2 linked regions of the Homo sapiens genome follow. The protein of the gene in region 2 purifies or fractionates together with the protein of the main gene of each other region. This does not show direct contact. Each region holds a gene or a part of one and is shown on either strand. Other genes may lie near its edges.

Region 1 (7,826 bases), on a different chromosome or scaffold from region 2:
TTGCTAGGAGAATGGGCTTTGGATGTTATAACTCTGAAGAAGTTTCATGACTCTTGCTACTAGAGGTAACCATATTGCCTCCTTGAGAAACTGGTGACACTGGGTGCCTCTGGGGAGTGCAACTGAGGGTGGCTAAGGTGCCCATGTCCCTTAGAAAAAACAAAATCAACACATAATTCCCCCATGTCACCCCACCCTGCTTCTTTAAGATAGGAAGGCAACCTGGGGCCAGGGCTGGAGCAGACAATTTCCTTACTCAGCAGCTGAAGCGGGGAGCTGAAAGAAGGATCCAAAAAATCAGAGAAGAGTTGTAAGTTAAGTGGAAAACCATGACCCAAAGGTCAATACAAGGATCAGCACACCAAAGTGACCAAAAGCAGCTACTGAAGATGTGACCCAGGACCAGAAAACAAAGCAACAAGGAAAGAGAGGAGTAAGAGCAAACTGTGAAGAATAAACTGAGAGGTGTCTGAAGATAGTCAAGGACAAGAGCCTGGGGTGTGACGGACACATAGCTGGATGTGTGAGACTACGGGACCAGGAGCTCAAGAGGCCTAGGCAGCAAGGTGCAGGCCAGGGCAAAACGTGCATCAGCAATAAAATAGATTTGGTGGGTGGACACATTAGGAGTACTCATATAAGAACTTTCCTATTTGGAGATGCCCAGATCATGCTCTACCCTTGGGTTTAGAAATTCTGAGCAGCCAAATGTGAATGGTTTGCTCTGGATAAGTCCTTTTCATTATAGCCAATTGGAACCATTTGAATTCACACTCCTAATTACCTGCTTCTGGTTGCTGTGTCTAAACCATGTCTGGACCAACATAGCTTCTGGTACTCTACACTCCACCATGGGTCTTGGTCCAGCATCACTGGCAGGGACATACCAGCCCTGTTCATAGGACTGGAATAAAATCCAGAAGTAAGTTGTCTCAGGACCTCTGTTTAATAACAGGTTAGAAACAACTCCTGTAGGTATGGTTGTGGGATCCTGGCCTGGGACCAGGAGCATATAAATCTGCAACAATTACCACTGGGTAGGCCTTAGCAAGGATTACTATGAGGTTCAGCAACAAAGCTGCAAGAACTAGTGGTGGGGACTTTGTTCCTAAAGTGCAGTGTCCCTGGTGCCAAGTGCTTGTGGGCAACCTAGAGCCGCATCTGATGTAGGAAGACTTCATTGTCCTGAAATGGAATGTCTAGAAACTGTTAAGGAGCTGGAGGTCTATAAGCTGTTGTTTGGTTTAAGAGTTTTCTTACACAGTATCTTCTCTTTGTGGGACAACGTCTAGCTTTCAAGGTGTCTCAAAACTAACAGGTGTTGACCCGGCGTGGTGGCTCACGCCTGTAATCCCAGCACTTTGGGACGCCGAGGTGGGTGGATCACCTGAGGTCAGAAGTTCAAGACCAGCCTGGCCAACATGGTGAAACCCCGCCTCTACTAAAAATACAAAAAATAGCCGGGTGTAGCAGCATGCACCTGTAATCCCAGCTACTCAGGAGGCTGAGTCAGGAGAAACACTTGAACCTGGGAGGCGGAGGTTGTAGTGAGCTGAGATCGTGCCACTGCACTCCAGCCTGGGCAGCAGAGCAAGACTCCATCTCAAAAAACAAAACAAAACAAAAACAGGTGTTAATGAGGAACTTGTAATTTTTGGAGGTGAGTAGAGAAAGTGAAAGAACAGCACTAAAAGTAACTGTGATGAATGAGTGTTGTGCCTCTACTATCAAGCAATATTGTTTAAGAGGAGCTGTTATATCTAAAAATCCTTGAGTAAAACAAAGACTGGCCAATTCTGTGAAATGCTATTACCAAACCCCTGCCCCCTGAATGTTTCCAGTCTATGTGGTATTACTTGGAACCCACTTGGGAAAAGTTCCATTCCATAAATCCTGGCAGAGGCAGGAAGAGAAGAGACAGAGTTTGAACTTGCAGAAACTGCTTGTCGGGGTCCAAATGGAAAATCAGATATCAAATTGGTTGTTACAAACCTATTCACAGACTCAGGGGAAGCAATTTAACAACAAGTGGCATAGAGTTGGAGGCTTAGGAGAGAAAGCAAATTATCCCAAATTGTTCATCTGCTGCAACACCATTATCTTCCTCTTTAAACTTTGTTATTTTAGCCAATAGTGTCATCATTTTCTAATTCCTTTTTTTTTTTTTTGGGACAGAGTCTAGCTCTGTCGCCAGGTTGGAGTACAGTGGCGCAATCTCCACTCACTGCAACCTCTGCCTTCCGGGTTCAACAGATTCTCCTGCCTCAGCCTCCTGAGTAGTTGGGACTACAGGTGTGCACCACCACGCCCAGCTAATTTTTGTATTTTTAGTAGAGACGGGGTTTCACCATGTTGGCCAGGATGGTCTCGATCTCTTGACCTTGTGATCCACCCACCTCAGTCTCCCAAAGTGCTGGGATTACAGGCGTGATTCACCACACCTGGCCAGTGTCATTTTCTACTGATGCAGGTTGGAAGCCTCATGCTGTTCCACCTGCCCCGGAAGCTTTCCCTAATTTCACAGCCCTGTCTCACCCATCCTCATGGATCCAGTTCAAGAACCATCTCATCCATGAAGCCCATCAGCCCTTGGAGATCTTGTTCATAACCTCCACATTGTCAATGCCCAGCAGTGTCCTAAAAACAGCAAGTTCTCAAAACTATAGGCATTAGTTACTAAAAACAGGCTGCTGTGTGGGAATCCGCACATAGGCAGCAGGCTCCCTTAATTCAGGGACTAGAGAGCCACCTGGTCTTCCTCCCCACACAACACAGCCTTGCCTGGGTCCCCGGGTTTATATTTTCTAGCACCAGATCCTCCTCTTCCAACAGGGGTGATACCCAAATGAGTGGAGGTCCAAAGCATAGGACTAGAATGAAACAAACCCAGCTCTTCTGTGAGGTGTAGGCCTGTGAGAAGATCAGTATTGGTGGCCAACCCCTGATTCCTAAGGGTGCCTACTGAGTCATCTGGGCCAGATCAGCCCCTAGGCCCAGCACTGTTCAGTAATACCAGCATGCTACTACCTTCTGTACCATACCTCAGGCCCTGACTGCAAAGCAGGCTGAAACTGTAAGCCTTCTTTTGGGGTCCTCCCAGAAAAGCATGCTTCCCTGGGCACAGAGATACAGATTCCAGGAGATCCTGTTCCTCTCTTCTCACTGGCATGATCCTCTGAGGCAGAAGGTTGAGAACAAAGGAACAGGACAGCCACAACAAGCTAAGGTCTGGGCAGAGAAGAAATCCAAACTTGTTGAGCAAAAGAAATCAAGAACAAGCAAATACCAGAAGGGAACAGCCAAAAGTTTTTCAAAGTTATGGAGAACAGCAAGGAAAATGGTCCAAGAGTCCAGCAAAGAGTAATGAGGAGGGCCATGGCACATAGGGAGGAGTGGTGAAGACTGAAAAATACGTGAGCAGCCAAAGAAGGTGCCTAACAGTGAGGCAGCATCCTAGTTCTGGTTCAGCTAACTCACATTCCTCTCACCATGGGGTGAACCAATTCTCAGCTACCCTGGGGGGAAGGCTTGTTGAAGATGACGCCTGCAGAAGCTGACTGGCAGAGTAGTGGACTCTGGGATGGGATACCGGCAGGGGCATTTCCCCACCAGCTTCACCCTGGAGATAACTCCATGTTTCAGAACCTGTTACCTTTTTCCTCAAACATGAGCTATTTTTCCTAGTTTCCTTTGAAAGATCGGACCGAAAGTCAAGTTTTCGTGGTTTAGGCTCACCCTTCAAAACACCCGAAATAACTTTTGCAGAAATCTTCCTCATGTTCAAGTTTTCTTTCAAAATGAGCCTAACAGTTTCTTTGTCTAAATTTAACTCTTCAGCCATCATCCTCACGGTTAACTGCCTGTTTGAACAAACCAAGTCCTTGACCTTCTGGATATTGTCATCTGTTCGGTGGGTGACTGGACGCCCACTTCGGGCATCATCTCGAACATCTTCCCGTCCTTCTTTAAACCTTTTGTGCCAGTCAAAAACTCTGGCCCTTGACATGACTTCATCCCCATAAGCTTCTTTTAAAAGATGGTGGGTCTCACTTGCAGACTTGTTCAATTTCACGCAAAATTTGATACTAATCCTTTGTTCTAAATAGCGGTCACTCATTCTGGCACTGAACAACACAGGAACGTTTAACAGGCCACGACTGTAAGGGAAAGACGGACAGATCAATCTTTATAGGGCTGCAGGTGTAATCATATCGCTCTTCTTGCTCTTCTAGAAGCCTCGCCGGGAAAGAGTAATTGCTTTTATGAATTTTTGTCCCTCAGCTTCCAGTCGAGGCTGGGGAGATCCGTTCTGGGAAGCCAACAGTCGCTGCAAAGCTGGGAAAAATTAAATCGCCTACAACCACGTCTGCATCAAACCAGTGCACGCACATCTGCCGAGAGTTTGCCAGTCACCAAGGTCGCTCCGATTCCGCGGCCCTTAAGGAGTATATGGCGAATTCTGCAAGAAAGGCCTAAGTGGTGGCAAATTAAGCAAGCAAGAAGAGATGCATCGGTGATGTAACGTGCAAGCTCGCCCTAGATCTGCAGAAACCCGCGCACGCCAAACCTACCGGAGCAGCCCAGGAACCGCCTGCTCTAGCGTCCCGGGAGACAGGCGCGCATGCGCAATTCTCTCTCCCCGCGGATTAGACTGTGCGCAGTCGCACTGCGGCGGCGCGCGCCAGGTCCCGCCTCCGCCTCGCCACACCCCGGCAGGCGCGCTTCCTTGCGCGTGCCCGCCTGCTGAGAAGGCGGAAAGGAGGGGCGGGGGAGGAAGGCTGAGGGAAGAGAGGGCACCCCCGGGCGTCAGGGTGCATTGTGGGAAGGAGGCGGCAGCGTCTCGGGCGGGCGGGAGGTGCACCAGCGGCGGCGGCGGCGGTAAATCCTCCCGGCCGCTCACAGCACTGTGGAGCCGCGTCCCCAGCCCGGCCTCGGACCGCGGCACCCCTCCTGGCCCTCGCGGCTTCTAGCCCGCCCGCCCCTCCCCCGCGCGTCGGCCCTGCCGAGCCGGCCGGCCGGCCTGGCTCCCCTCCCCGGCCCCGACGGGCGGGCGGACTGCCCTGAGGAGGCGGGGAGGGGAGGGCTGGGCCGGCCGGCGGGCGGGCGACGATGCCGAACTTCTGCGCTGCCCCCAACTGCACGCGGAAGAGCACGCAGTCCGACTTGGCCTTCTTCAGGTTCCCGCGGGACCCTGCCAGGTAAGCGGCGGGCGCAGAGCGGGCGGCCCGGGCCCACCTTCGCGGTGAGCGCTGCCAGCCGCCGGCCCCTGGCGGGCTCCCGGGCTGGCTGAGAGGGGCGCAGGAGGCGGGCGCAGCGCACTGCCGTCGACCCCAGCGTTGGACCGAGATGGGGAGCCGGCCCCGAGCCGTGGGCGGGCGGGCGTCCGGGGACCTCGGAGCACGTGCGCTGGTGGGGGCTCTGCGCGGAGGACACCACCCCAAACGCGAGGGAGCTGGGGCGGCGCGCGGACGCGGGATGCTGTGGGTTCTCGCCGTGGCTCACTTGCTGTGTGACCTCGGGGGAGTCGCTTTCCTCTCTGGGCGTTAGTTTCCTTAGCTGTCAAAAGAGAGCAGGACTCTATGGTTGTGGCCACTGGGGCCTTTCCCTCTCCTTGCCACCACCCCCGGGACAGTGTTTCTGTTTTGAGTCCCGCTACCTTCTTTCATCTCATCGCAACTGCTTTCTCCTTCGGACTTGTCATTGCACGGTTCAGGATTCATTTTCTGGCTGTCACCGTTACTCATTTTCTCGCTTGGGTATTGTAGGGATAACAGAGGGTGTACGCGTGAGGGCGTGGAAATTGGTATTGGAACCTCTTCCTTCGGATAACCCCCACACACTGACATATTTAGGGAATGATAGCATAGGGACTGTGTTTGAAAGGCTGAGATGTTTCATAGGCCTGTCTTGTTGGTTCATTCATTTAAAATCAATGCCTACTATGTGCCGAGCGCAAATGTTAGGTGCTGGGAGTTCATGGGTGAATAAGGGTGTCACTGCTTGCAGAAAGCTCTCAGTCCAGTAAGGGAACAGGTGCAGCAACGGGCGACTATAATTTATGTTATTTATTAATTAGTTCAATTAATTATTGAAGGTCTACTTGTGTTGGCATTGTTGTGAGCAGTGGGGGTTACAGATGAACAAATCGAAGTCCTTGCTTTCATGAAGATTACATTCTAATGGGGGGGGAATAAACAAGTAAAATACGTAGTGTGTCGGATGATGATAAATACTGTGGAGAAAAATAAACAAAGGTTAGAGGGTAGGGGAATAAGTAGTATCAAGGGACGCACAATTGCTATTTTAAATACAGTGATTAGAGAAGGCCTCACTAAGAAGGTGAATTTGAGCAAAGACCAGGTGAAGGGGCCAGCCATGGAGATACCTTGGGCAGCAGCATTCCAAAGAAGGCAAAGACAGGGCAACCAGGAGTCCAGGGAGAGGGACTGGGAGAGAGGTGAGATGAGACCAGAAAGGTGTGTGTATGGTAGGGGCAAATTCTTTAGGTAGGACCTTGTAGGTCTTGGAAGGCACTATGGTTTTTATTATGAGTGAAATAGGAAGTCATTGAAGGGTTTAGAGCAGAGACTTAAATTTTAACAGGATCAGTGGCTGCTCATTAGATTGTGGGGAGGCAAAGGTGAAAGCCGGAAGACCAGTTAAAAGGCTGTTGTAATAATCCAGATTAATAGAGGAGGAGATGGTAAATTTGAGATATGGTTTGAAGGTGAAGCCAACATCATTTGCTAATGGTTTGGAGGTAGATTGTAAAAGAAAAAGAGAACTTAAGGACGACTTCAAGATTTTAAAAATCTATGTTGGCCAGGTTGGTCTTGAACTCCTGGCTTCAAGCAGTCCTCCTGTGTCGGTCTCCCAAAGTGCTAGAACAGGCTCTGAGCCACCGCGCCCAGCCGACTTCAAGATTTTTAACGTGAGCATTTGCTGAGATAGGGAAGACTGGGAAGAGCAGGTTTGGTAGAGGAATACTAGAAGTTTGGGTTTGAGAGACCTGATAGACATTCAAGAATAGATGTCTAGGCCGGGCATGGTGGCTCACACCTGTAATCCCAGCACTTTGGGAGGCCTAAGCAGGCGGATCACTTGAGGTCAGGAGTTCGAGACCAGCCTGGCCAACATAGGGAAACCCTGTCTCTATTAAAAAATACAAAAATTAGCTGAGCCCAGTGGTGCGTGCCTGTCCAGCTACTCAGGAGGCCAAGACGTGAGAATCGCTTGAACCCAGGAGGCAGAGGTTGCAGTGAGCCGAGATCGTGCCACTGCACTCCAGTCAGGGTGACAGAACAAGACTCCGTCTCAAGAAAGAAAGAATAGATGAAAAAAAAAAAAGAATAGATGTCTTTCTTCATACCATATACAGAAATGAACTCCAAATGGCCTATACTTTTATTGAGATCAAAGGCCTAAATATAAGAGCTATGTCATTAAACTTTTAGGAAAAAAATACAGATAAATCTTCATGACTTTAGATTTGGCAGCACATTCTTGTTTGTTTTTTGTTTTTTTTGAGAGTCTCACTCTGTTGCCCAGGCTGCAGTGCAGTGGCACAGTCTCAGCTCACTGCAACCTCTGCCACCGATGTTCACAAACTATTCTACTCACTCAGCCTCCCAGGTAGCTGGGATTGCAGGCATCCGCCACCATGCCTGGCTAATTTTTGTATTTTTTTTTAGTCAAGACGGGGTTTCGCCATGTTGGCCAGGCTGGTCTCGAACTCCTGATCTCAGGTGATCTGCCCGCCTTGGCCTCCCAAAGTGCTGGGATTACAGGTGTAAGCCACCGTGCTTGGCTGGCACCACATTCTTAGA
Region 2 (7,022 bases):
CTAGCACTTGACATGTATGAACTCTTCACTGTTGTCCCTGCAAGGGATGGACTGTTAATATCCCATGTTATTATCCCATTTCCTTCATTACAGCCAAGGGAAACTGAGGTACAGAGAAGTTAATTAACTTGCCCAAGTTGTGGTTCCCACAGTCCAGGCCTGGAAGCGTGACCCCTTGCCCTTAACCACACCACCATCCTGCTCTCCTCTCTGCCTCTACAAGGTTCTGGGCTGGGTTTTCTGCTGGCTGGAAGGGGTCCCTGACCTGTGGCTGGAGCTCCTGAGCAGATAAAAAGATCACAGAATCCATCCAATGCCAAGTGAGGGTAGAGACAGCTACAAGAGGGGGCCAGGGAGTGGGGTGGGGCTGGGTGGGGGACTCACAGAGGGAGGACTGGGCTCTGGAGGCAAGGGAACCCCAGAGCCTGGAGGGTATTCAGGGAGAAGGGACAAGGCAACCTGAGGCTGATGGACTGCCTGCAGGAGCAGGAGAGGATTTGGTAGGAGCAGGGGTGGAACCTAGTTGGAGCCAGATATATGCTTTCATTGGTTCATTCAGCAACTATTTATTGAGGGCCTACTATGTGCCAAGCACTTCGAATCCAGCAGTGGGGAAAATAAAGTCCTCGTCATCCAAGAGCTTCTATTTCAGAGGGAAAACATAATAAACACAGAAGTCATCACTCACAGATCTGCTGCTGCAATGAAAAATAAGAAGGAGCCGGGCGTGGCGGCTCATGCCTGTAATCCCAGCGCTTTGGGAGGCCGAGGTGGGTGGATCACTTGAGGTCAGCAGTTTGAGACCAGCCTGGCCAACATGGTGAAACCCTGTCTCTACTAAAAATACAAAAATTAGCCGGGCGGTAGTGGCATGCACCTTTAATCCCAGCTATTTGGGAGGCTAAGGCAAGAGAATCTCTTGAGCCTGGGAGGCAGAGGTTGCAGTGAGCCGGGATCGTGCCACGGCACGTGTGGGCGACAGAATGAGACCCTGTCTCAAAAGAGAAAAAAAAAAGTAGGGTCAGGGGACTGAGCATGGTTGGGGAGGGCACTGTCCTAGACGGAGTGGCCAAGAAAGGTCTCTGAGGTGGTGGTCCAGTGCAGCAAGCGGGCAAGCCACGCAGTGGAGCAGCCTGTGGACAGACCGTCCACGTGGTCAGAAAAGTGGCCTGACAGACACTGGCACTAAGACACCCGCTTGTGCCTGAACTCAGTACCTAAAGCAGATTTGTGCCTCCTCCACTGCACTCCACTCTCGCTGCATCTATGCAGGCGATGGCCACAGAGCCTTTTGAGATCTGAAAACAGCTAAGTATTGTCTTTCAGGCAGCATCTCACACACAACCCACATGTGGCCAAACACAATTGCATCTAGCGGTGGGGGTTTAACAGACTCTGTCTGCAAGGAGAGGAGACCCTTCTGTCTGTCAGACGAGAGTACCAATGAGCAGTGGGAGCAGAAGGCCTGGCCTTCCAGGGGTCCCTGGAGAAAGCATTTTACACACCTGGGGCCTCTGCTTCTAGCCCTGCATCTGAGCAGTGCTCATCAGTCTGTCCCGGGAGGCCTCTTTTCCTCACTCCTCCTCCAAGCTAGGGAAGAGCAGGCTGGTTCTCTCCAACTCTCCTCTCCACCTGCCCCTCAGGCCCGTCTCTGTCCTTCCTGGCCCATGTTGATCCCCACCTCTGCACTGGGCTCAAGTAGCTCGCTGTGTCTGGAATGCCTGCCTCTTCCTCCTCCTTCCCTTCAAAACTGCCCATCCCAGTCCTGCCTCCTCCAGGAAGCCCATGCAGCTACATCAACCTGCTTCACTCCCATGTCCAATGATACCCTCATTGGGATGATGCCAAGCAGCTTACCAAGTGCTTTCTCATACATTACATAACAAGAACAACACTAGCTAACAAGTGTTAAGCACTAGGCTTGATGTGTATTAACTCTTCTCACAGTAACCCTATGAAGAAGGCATAGTATCATATCCCTATGTTACAGATGACAAAACTGAGGCCTAGGGAGATTCAGCGACTTGCCGAAGGCCACACAGGTAGTGTGTCTGGCTCCAGAGCCTACACTCCTAGTCACCACTGAACTCAGAAGTTGCTGGGAGGACTGAGGAACTCCTGTAACAGGAAATACAGCTTAGAGCAGTGCCTGGTGTGTAGTCAAGGCTGTGCTTGCTCCGACTGTTCCCCAGTGCTCTCCTACAGCTTTCCATCCTGTTAGGGAGAGGCTGTATCACATGCAGTGACTTGCCTACACCCATACGAACAAGCATCAAAGTCACATCCTGGATCCAGGTCCCCTGAGCACCAAGTCTAAAGTGGTGGCTCCTAGAGAACCAGCTGGGGCTGGCATTTCATCACAGATGGGCGGTGGAGGCTTCTGTGCAGGGAGGACAGAAACCCCTCAGCTGGCAGGGCTGCAGATCATGGAAAGGGACAAATGGGGTACTTTGCTCTGCCAGCCCCTTTGGTCCCAGAGACAGGCTGAGAGGTGGAGCAGGGCTGTGGGGACCCAGGAAACCCTTTCGCTGCGCCGGGCCCTCCTCCCGCCCCTGCCTGCCAGGGAAATCATTAGCTGTCAGAGCTGCCGTCAGATTACAGGGAATTGCTTGTCTCCTAATTATCTAGTGTTAATAGGAGATTAATTAGTGTTAATTGTTGATTTTCTTGTATTTTCCCAAAGGGGAGACCAATCTGCCGAACTCTTGGGCTGTTTAATTATTTGGTCTTGCTTAGGAATCCAGACAGATGCTTCTAGGTTTGTGAGCAAAGGGGAGAGGCTGGGATAGCAGGGGTGGTCCCAGGACAGGCAAGGCTGGGTGGGACAACACTCTGGGCTGAGCCAGAGGGGAACTGCCTACTCAGAGGGTGGTTTCGGTTCTGAGCCATCTCCTCTGAGAACGGATGTCCCCATCCCAGACCCAGCGCCCTCCATGACATTATCTATGCCCCTCCAGACACGACACAGCATGGGGCAAGGCCCCCTCACAGGGCATCAGTAGCACAGGTCTTCAAGTTGAACCTACTTAGGGGAAATTAAGATAAAGTAGGATATAAATTGAAATTGACAGTGAAAGGCATGTTCACAGGTGCCAGGACAGTGGCAGCTGTTCTGGGGGCTGTGGGTCCTATTAGATTCTCAGAAAGTGGGACCATGTCCATTTACAGACATTCAGGGGACCTTGAGCCTCCTGAAACAGGCTCACCCTCTTCCCTTGGACAGCCTCTCCTGCATCTGTCACTGAACTGATCCCACTGCTAGTGGGAGCTTCCTCAAGTGCTATTTTCATCAGTTTGCTGTGCTGATGAAGACCCTTAAACAACGCCCACCACCCACATCAGCCCTGACTTCTTCTGTCTTTTTGGATCCTTTATCTAATCTGGCCCCACTGCCCCCAGTCCGCCTTTATCACACATGCACAGTATATACATGCACATACATGCATGAACACATGTATACACACGCACACCATGTATACACATGCACACACACATGCACACACACACATTTCCCACTGATCTGTGTCTTCACCTTGACCCCTATTTGGGCTTTGCTTACATGCTGAATGAAAGACAGACAGAAGGAACCAATCTATGTGCACAGGCCACATTCCAAAGCAAACCGGAGCACAGGCCCAGGTCTCCCTGTCCCCTCACCATGGTGGCCCTCCTGCTGCCTGCAGCCCCCATACCTTGGGGAGGGCCCCTGGCCAGACACGGACGGCGCCATGGTTGAGCAGAGCCCGAACCACGTGCTCGGGGCTCTGGGCCAGGGCTGCAGCTGGGCCCTGCAGAGCACAGTGCAGGGGCGTGTGTCCCCCATAGTCCATGGTGTTGGCGCTGACACCACAGGACAGGAGCAGCTCCACGACAGCTGCATGGCCACGGCGGCAGGCCAGGTGCAGGGGTCGCTGCTTGTCCTGGTCCGCAGCATCAGCGTCTGCTCCAGCTGAAAGCAGCAAGCTGCACAGCTGCAGGCAGCGGGCGGTGGTGGCCTCGGCATCGGTGATGGACTGGCAGCGGACGTCACAGGCAGCCAGCAGTGGGGTCCAGCCTTCGGCATTGCGGGCATCAGGACATGCCCCCCGTCTTAGAAGCAGATCTGCCAGCTCCACATGGCCAAGCCGGGCGGCCACATGCAAAGGGGTCTCCTCTTCTTCCTCGGACCGACCATCCACTCTCGCTCCAAACCTGAGGAGCAGCTCCGCACACCTATTGGGGGGAGACGGTGGTGGGGAGGAAAGCGGGCACGGACCCCTGGCAGGAACACACTTGGGTGGCTCTTGGTTCTGTCTCCCCCCACCCACCCTCCATCCTGCCCATCACTGGTCATCCTGGCACCATTCTGCAAGATCAACAGTGCCCTTCTTTTTTTTTTTTTTTTGAGACTGAGTCTTGTTCTACCACCCAGGCGGAAGTGCAGTGGTACAATCTCAGCTCACTGCAACCTCCACCTCCCGGGTTCAAGCGATTCTCCTGCCTCAGCCTCCAGAGTAGCTGGGATTACAGGCTCCCACCACCACGCCCGGCTAGTTTTTTGTGTATTTAGTAGAGATGGGGTTTCACCATGTTTGCCAGGCTGGTCTCAAACTCCTGACCTCAAGTGATCCACCTGCCTCGGCCTCCCAAAGTGCTGGATTATAGGCATGAGCCACTGTGCCTGGCCAACAGTGTCCTTCTTTAAAATCCAAATACTTTTTGTTGGGATAATCCACTAAATCATCCGTGGGAATAAACGTCACCAGCAGTTATCACATGAGTGGTTAGAACAGGCGCCTGCTAAGGGTTTTACGTGTTGTAGCTAATTTCATCCTCACTACATTCCCTTGGTAGGCTCTCTTAAGGCACTCATGCCACAGAGGAGGAAACTGAGGTTTGAGGATCTCATGCAAGTTGACATGGCTAGTAGGGGTAGGGCTGCTATTTGGGTTCAGGGGCAACAGGACTGTTGGGGGATCTGCATGCTGGGACTGGAGGAGGAAGGGGGCGTGGGGCCTGACAGTGGGCACACATGGAAATGGGGCAGTGGGATAAAGAACAAGACTGATTGGCTGGGCATGGTGGCTCATGCCTATAATCCCAGCACTTTGGGAGTCCAAGGCAGGTGGATCACCTGAGGTCAGGAGTTTGAGACCAGCCTGGCAAACACGGTGAACCCCCGTCTCTACTAAAGATACAAAAATTAGCCAGGTGTAGTGGTGGGCCCCTGTAATCCCAGCTACTTGGGAGGCTGAGGCAGGAGAATCGCTTGAACCTGGGAGGTGGAGACTGCAGTGAGCCGAGATCATGCCACTACACTCCAGCTTGGGTGACAGAGTGAGACTCCTTCTCAAAATAGAAAAATAAAAAATAAAAAAGACTGAAATTGGCCAACTGGATTTACTCCAAGATGGCAAGAAGCACAGGGAGTCACAGCAACGTGTGTGCCTCACTTCAGGGCTAACGGGACTTGGCCTCTTTGAGCTCCTGTTCCCTCGTGTGTAGAATGGGGATAATTATAACAGCTCCACCTTCCGAGGTGGTTGTGAGCAGCACGTGAGACGACCCCCAAAAACCTGTCATCGTAAGGGCTCAAAATGACGACACTTGGCAGGGGGAGTGGGAGGTATAGAGGGTGATGGATTGTGGGAGCTCATTTCATTATCCTGTCTGACTTTCTATATCTTTAAAAGTCTCCATAATAATTTTAAAATACATTTGTTTACTCACAAAGGAAGGAAGGATTATCACTGGGTGTGATCTCAGGGAGGCTGGTGGGAACATGGTCAGAACTAAAAATGTGGGATTATGTGGAACCTCACTATCCAGTGGTAGCCACTAGCCACCTGTGGCTATCGAGTTCTTGAAATGTGGCTAATCCTAACTGAGATGCGGTGTGTTATATGCTTGCCTTTTTTTCTTCTTCTTCTTCAGAAACAGAGCTGGCTAGGTGCAGTGGAGAATCACTTTAGCCCAGGAGTTCAAGACTATCCTGGGCAACAAAGTGAGACCCATCTCCACAAAAAATTAGCTGGGAATGGTGGCATGGGCCTGTAGTAGTCCCATCTACTCTGTAGGCTGAGGTGAGAGGATTGTTTGAGCCAAGTAGTTTGAGGCTGCAGTGAGCTATGAACGTACCACTGGACATCCAGACTAGGTGACTGAGAGAGACCCTATCTCTCTCTCTTTTTTTTTCTTTTGAGATAAGGTCTCTCTCTGTCACCCAGGCTGGAATACAGTGGCGTGATCTCCACTCACTGCAACCTCCGCCTCACAGGCTCAAATGATCCTCCTACCTCAGCCTCCTGAGTAGCTGAGATTACAGGTGTGCACCACCATGCCTGGCTAATTTTTGTCTGTTTGCTTGTTTGTTTTTTTGAGACGGAGTTTCCCTCTTTCGCCCAGGCTGGAGTGCAGTGGCACAATCTTGGCTCACTACCACCTCCACCTCCGGGGTTGAAGGGATTCTCCTGCCTCAGCCTCCCGAGTAGCTGGGATTACAGGTGCCCGCCACCATGTCCAGCTAATTTTTGTATTTTTAGTAGAGACAGAGTTTCACCATGTTGGCTAGGCTGGTCTCCAACTCCTGACCTCAGGTGATCCACCCGGCTCGGCCTCCCAAAGTGCTGGGATTACAGGCGTGAGCCACTGCGCCCGGCCTCAATTTTATATTGATTACATGTCAACATGATAACACTTTGGATATGTTGTGTTAAATAAAATATAATTAATTTAACCTGCTTCAAAGATATTTGTACCCACATGTCCACAGGAGGATTACTCCCAATAGCCAAAATGTGGAAGCAACCCAAGTGTCCCTCAACGGGTGAATGAATAAACATTCAATAAAAATGTGCTATACACATATAAAGGAGTGTTATTCAGCCTTAGAAAGGAAGGAAATTCGGCCGGGCGTGGTGGCTCACACCTGTAATCCCAGCACTTTGGGAGGCCGAGGTGGGTGGATCACAAGGTCAGGAGATCGAGACCATCCTGGCTAACACGGTGAAACCCCGTCTCTACTAAAAAATACAAAAAGTAGC

The links. Proteins that work in one complex are often made in the same cells at the same time.
Region 1: the proteins of ASB10 (region 2) and THAP12 purify together in Homo sapiens (affinity purification with mass spectrometry; 2 studies listed by BioGRID and IntAct, with this or other methods). This does not show direct contact.

What each region holds. Positions count from the first base shown.
Region 1 is NC_000011.10:76,378,120-76,385,945, reverse strand, and holds the start of THAP12 (52 kDa repressor of the inhibitor of the protein kinase), read left to right. Parts: upstream 1-4,813; 5' UTR 4,814-5,109; coding exon 5,110-5,198; intron 5,199-7,826. Other genes in the region: protein GVQW3, read right to left, coding at 3,736-4,117. UniProt on the Homo sapiens protein: Upstream regulator of interferon-induced serine/threonine protein kinase R (PKR). May block the PKR-inhibitory function of DNAJC3, resulting in restoration of kinase activity and suppression of cell growth.
Region 2 is NC_000007.14:151,177,247-151,184,268, forward strand, and holds part of ASB10 (ankyrin repeat and SOCS box protein 10), read right to left. Parts: intron 4,213-7,022; coding exon 3,693-4,212; intron 1-3,692. UniProt on the Homo sapiens protein: May be a substrate-recognition component of a SCF-like ECS (Elongin-Cullin-SOCS-box protein) E3 ubiquitin-protein ligase complex which mediates the ubiquitination and subsequent proteasomal degradation of target proteins.